Regions from separate parts of the Homo sapiens genome. Here region 1 is linked to region 2. The links come from fine-mapping of genetic effects on gene expression. A gene starts in region 2. The other region holds a variant in brackets. All regions are shown on one strand. Distances are from middle to middle.

Evidence for each region. PIP is the estimated chance that this variant, and not a neighbour inherited with it, causes the effect.
Region 1: its variant is the best candidate, but not a certain one, in a credible set for the expression of TCF21 in skeletal muscle (GTEx, PIP 0.60).

Annotation. Positions count from the first base shown.
Region 1 is chr6:133,685,863-133,688,781 of GRCh38, reverse strand. The region is part of intron 4 of TARID (TCF21 antisense RNA inducing promoter demethylation); the gene reads left to right. Among named protein-coding and RNA genes, the nearest start is that of LINC01312, 130 kb to the left of the region's middle. The variant G/A (reference allele first, on the strand shown) is at 1,215.
Region 2 is chr6:133,888,030-133,890,948 of GRCh38, reverse strand. TCF21 (transcription factor 21) reads right to left here and starts at 1,836. Exons shown (of 2, transcript NM_003206.4): 1 at 1,102-1,836. The coding sequence starts at 1,551. It overlaps TARID (TCF21 antisense RNA inducing promoter demethylation), which reads left to right and starts at 1,943. Exons shown (of 9, transcript NR_109982.1): 1 at 1,943-2,345. RefSeq lists enhancers at 1-123, 1,375-2,288.

The sequences.
Region 1 (2,919 bases), 200 kb after region 2:
CATGTTCCATGAGATTCCTGAGAAATTCCTGGCTACATGGTGCATCAGCCCTCCATAGTGATGGCCAATTCAACATGCACCCTTGGATTATTTCCCTTTCTCCTGTCTCAATCCTCATGCCCCCTCCCTTTCTCACTTGTATCACTCCCCAAATAAACTATCTGTGGGTAAGGCTTTGTATTAGGGGTTCTCTTTAGAGAAATCTAGACTAAAATAAATTGGAGAAGAGATTAGAGCTGGAGAATGAAATTGATCAAAATTTCATTTCAGTCCCTTCAAAACTGACTGTAATTAATTAGTTTGGCAGGCTTGGCTATCATGCACTTATGTGAACTCTTAGGTATGAAGGTAGAGAAGTTTAGCTGCCTGAAACGATGGGGTCATTATTATTCTCCAGATTACTCAGGATCCAGTTCTAGTGGGCTGCCTCAACTCAGTCTACCCTCAGAGAACCCTCAAGAAATTGGTTGTGTAATTGCATTGCATAATAAACTGTATCTATAACCAAACTAAATTCTATGCTCACCTTATCAACACTATAAGCTGGTTCCTCCTGTACTTGACAAGTATAATATCAATAAATCAATTTTAGTGTTTTAACATTAAAACCTTGTCTCTTTTTATTATCAGGTCTGAAAGTGATAGTGTATCATTTATAATGCACCCTGAACCAAGAATGCCCTCTTATAAAAGTCCTCAGTTTGTTTTTCCTCTGTAGAACAATATCCCTATAAACTGCAGAGAATCCATTGTTAAAACATGGAAGCTGTCTTTGATGATTTTAACTATACTAAGTAATAAAGTCATTTTGGTCCAAATGCAAGAGAAAAGTCTCTACCTCCCTTTTATTTCTGTGTGTCTCATTAAAGAAAGGGCTAAATGTTAATTTGGGAAATCAACAACTTTAAATGATGAAGGAAATGAGTTTTTTTCAGTACCAATAATTTAAAAGTCTATCTTGAATGTTTCAGCATTGGATAAGAAGAATGATGAAGCTATTAATAATTCTGCCTTCGTGTTACCAAAAATTGTTTTAATGAAAGACAGCGTATTCTGGATTTAATGTAAATCAGGCTAAGAGAAACATAGTGCCTTAAAAATAATTAGACATCCAATTGAAAAATCTTGCTTCTATAATCTTTCTACCCCACATCTTAGCCTGCTCTCCAAGGTAAAACTATAACGGGGTCTCTCTGGTTCCTTTTCTGTCCCCC[G/A]TGTTCATCTAGAAAAGACGTGAAGAGCAAAACTATACAAGACCTCTGTTTCATTAAACAAACTCAAGTCCAAGAAGATGCTTCACTTAAAAATTCAGCTAGCCTAAATGTGATAAGTTCTATTGATATTTTTCTTCAGTCATGAAAATGTTAATCAAATTTTCCACCTGAAGATCCAACTGATAATTTAAAATGATACATTAATTAAAATTAGTTGAAAACATTTTTAGATGAACAGAAAAGAAGTTTTGAAACTATGGGAGGGTGAGAAACATGGAAAATTACATACATTATATAAGTACAATTGAATAAATGCTAATATATTATTTAATACATTGTATGGTCTACAATATTTGAATAAGTAAAATACATGACAACTAATAGATCAAAAGGTGGGAAAAGAGTATATGCATTGTTGGGGACATAGCAAAAATAATAAATATTAAAAAATAAATCAAAAATGTATGTTTTAATCTTTAGGGTAATCCATAAAAGAATAGTAAAATGAATTATAAAGTAGTAGAGACTGTGGAATAGTACTTGATTAATACTTGACTAAAATTGAGGAAAAATAAAAAAATTAATCTGTTCTCACACTGTTAATAAAGACAAAGGCGAGACTGGGTAATGTATAAAGGAAAGAGGTTTAATTGACTTACAGCTCCACATAGCTGAGGAGGTCTCACAATTATGGCAGAAGGTGAATAAGGAGCAAAGTCACGTCTTACATGCCAGTAGGCAAGAAAGCTTGTTCAGGGGAACTCCCATTTATAAAACCATCAGATCTCATGGGACTTATTTACTACCACTCGAACAGTTTGGGGGAAGCCTCCCCATGATTCAATTATCTCCACTTGGCCCTGCCCTTGACATGTGGGGATTATTACAATTCAAGGTGAAATTTGGATGTGGACACAGCCAAACCATATCAGAACAAAAAGAAAGTAAATAGTAGGATAGTCAATTTAAACAAAAATATATGAGAGTTTTAATTAAATGTAAGCAGTCTAAATACTGTGATTAAAAGATTTGTCAGTTTTTTTTTTAAGCCAGACATTTATGACATACATGAGATGCATTTTAAATGTAAGGCTGTAGAAATGTTGAAAGCAAATTTAAAAGAGAAAAAAATTAATAAAAAAGCTGTATACACAAATATTAACCAAAAGAAAGTTGATATATAACATTAGAAAAAGTGGGCTTTTATGCAAGAATAATTGCCTATATATGTTTCAGTTCATTAATTCTCTTTTTAGCAGTGTTCAGTCCTCTGTTTAATCAATCCATTGAGTTCTTTATTTTGGCTAATCTATTTTTCCAAGTAGAATTTCTATCTGATTTTTTCTTTATTCTATTTCTTGGCTGAAAAACTCTATTGTGTCATGTATTTTTCTTGAACAGGTTAATCACATTATTTTAAAGTCTGTGTCTGATAACTAATATTTTATCAATTATGCATCTATTTCTATTATTCTATTATTTCTATTATCCCAAGTTTTTCTCCTTGTTTTCAGTGATTTGATTCTGTGTCTGGTATGATTGATAATTTTTACTGGATGTCAGACACTGTATATGAAAAGATTTAAAGATAACGTGAGGCTCCTGATGTAGCTGATTTTCTACATGGAGGACAAATTTTTGCTTCTGGCAGATAGCCAATTAGAAGAGAAATAGGTAAACTTAATTGGTCTTGTACTGAACTGAC
Region 2 (2,919 bases):
TTAAAAAGCTATTTACTCATTGGGGGGGAAAAACCCCAAACTTTCAATTGGAGAGAAAACATTTTTCATGGTAAAATGTGGGTTTGCATCTTCTTCTCCAGCAATTCCAGAAACCAATTCGGTGAGAAGACAATTCAGACCCCTCTCACTACTGCTCTAGTGCTAGCTGATAAGACTTGCCTTTTAAAAGGAAAAATCTCTCATTCTTATCATATACAAACAGAGATCCTAGTAAGTTGTTGTTATTGTTTTTCTTTAGATCTTAGAAGTTTTAAAATAAAATCAAATGAAAAAAATTAAGATATATTTCTTAAACAGTAAAATACATTTGAGAAAAAAGTAGACTCAATGATTATCAGTTTTTTGTGTTAAAAAATTAGGCTCAATGGGCATTACTTTTTAAGATAAAAGGTAACATTTCTTAAATCTTGGGTGAGAGTGACCTATTTTAGTATTTATTACACTCATACTAGTGAGGATTTACTGATTTTGCTGATCATTACTAGAACTTCTGGGATTTAAAAATATTAATCCACTTATAGGAGAAGCACAGAATATTTAAGCGGTTAAGGGCTTACGTGGACAATTTGGGGGGCATAGATGTGTCCTTATCCAATGGTCCTAAATATGCTTGTGAAAGAAACGGAGTTGGGTGTTTTTATTTACAAGGAAAGGAAAATCAAGTTCCACTCTCTGCTAAAAGAAGAAAAAAGGATTAACAAAATGCCTGTCCGCTCGCAGCGTCTTGTCAGTGTTCTCAGTTCCGCAGCAGCCACTGCACCCCAGGGAGGATGGCGATGGAGCGGGAGCGGGGGATCCCTCCTCTGTGCCAGCTCAACACACTTGCAAACTTTTAATTGGGCTGCCACGTCAAACCCTCGCATAAATCACTCCCGCTCCGGGGGCTGGTAGGGCAGAGAGCGAGGGCCGTGTCTAGACCGCCCGCCTCCGGTCCCTGGAGGCTCTAGGCCCGCGGTGGTCGAGATGTGTAAGTCACCGCCGCGCCCACACCCCCACTCCCAGCCCCGCGCGCACTCGCGCCCACCGCAGGCGGGAGTGCGGGCGCGCCTGGACTGCAGCTGCAGCCCCGGGAGCACTCACCAGGTTGACCGGGTGAATGTACCCGTTCTCGTATTTGTCGTTAGCCAGGATCTGCCTCAAGTGGGCGATGTAGCTGGACGCCAGCCTGAGCGTGTCCAGCTTGGAGAGCTTGGTGTCGGGGGGCACCCAGGGCAGGGTGGTCTTGAGTCTGGAGAAGGCCTTGCTCAGCACTCGCATGCGGGCCCGCTCTCGCGCGTTGGCGGCGTTGCGCTGGACCTGCTTCCCCTCCTGGCTGACCCCGCTCAGGGGGCTCTTCTTGGTGGGCGCCTTCCTCCTCTTGCCCAGGCCGCCGCGGCCCTTCTGGGGAGACCCATTCTCGCAGTTGGAGCTCTCCTCGGTGCTCTCGTTGGAAGTCACAAATTCCTTGTTCGAATCCATTTTCAACCCGTCACATTCCAACATCTCCACCTCTTGAAGGTCCTCCACATCGCTGAGGGAGCCGGTGGACATGTTTGGGGGAGTGGACGAGGGAGAGAGAGAGAGAGAGACAGAGAGACAGAGAAAGCGAGGAAGAGGGTGAGAGAGAGACAGAGAGACCCTGAAACCAAGAGGCCTCCCGAGTGTGGCGCAGCCACCTCCTGCTGGGAGCTGGAGTTGGGGTCTGGTTGGGTCTCACAACCCTTTCCCCTTCGCAGAGTTGTGAGAAGGAACCCCGAGGACTTCTGCAGCAGAGGAACCGGCTCTCTGTTTCCCCACTCCCAGAGTCGTGGCCGTAGAGGAGGGTGAGCGAGCGCTGAGGAATTTGGTGGACACTAGGAATTTATCTGGGGAATAGAGGGGCGGATCCTTGCAGCCCAGGGAGGGGCCTGCCAGGCCCCAGCAAAGCGCTTAGACCCCTTTCACAACCGGAGGGAAACTCAATGCACAGACCCTGATTTGCAACTTGTAATGTAAATCAACTCAACTGCATCATGTACTTACCAGCCACCTTCTCCCAACTGTGGCCGGGGCCGAGAAGCAGCATGTTCTGTCCATCTGTAAAAGGCCTTCTTTCTCTCTTAAGACGTCACAACTGGTTGTTACTGAGAACTTTAGAAAAACGACTAGATCGTTTGGCTCTTTCTGGGCCTTCCACCTACACTCCATGCCCTCTCTCCTCCCAAGAAAACACGAATTAAAATACAGGGAGTATCAACCGCATCCTGCCAACACCTCATAAGACTCCAAGGCTTTACCGAGATCTTCCACCTTCCCCGGGATAAATGAAGACAAGTGCTTCCTAGAATCTTTATGGTGATGGAAAAGTAAGTATAAAACATTTCACCTACACCTGGTCATTTTCAAGACATCAAAGGACTGCCTACGTGTACACAAACATACTTGATTTGCACACTCAAACCCAACCACACACAGCTTAGTGGGAGTGGGTAGGGAATGAGAGGGCAGTATGAGTGTGTGGAAAACATTATGTTAGTTGATCATCTTTTCCTAATAAATGGAAACTTTCCCCTCGGTTTTTTTTTCTTTTCTAGAAATGCATTTAATATTGCCTTGAGAGTCTTTGTTGCTCTCAGACATCACCTTGCCTGGCACTTTTTGTGATGCACCGTCCCTTTCAATGCTGCTGTCTTTGTCTTCTTCCAGCCTGTTAGGTGCCAGTGTTCCTCACATGAAGCTGACATTACACAACACAAAGCAAGACTATCCTTTTGAGAAAGGTTCTTTTCCATCTTTAACCCCAGCTCGAACCACCTTTCCTAGAGAATAAGAAAGTCTCCTGGGAAGTAGGTAGAAAAAGCACAGGGAAACAGAACCTAGGGATTGGATGAAATTGGTGCAATGAAACCAGGGAGACTGAAGGCATAAATCTCTCTTACA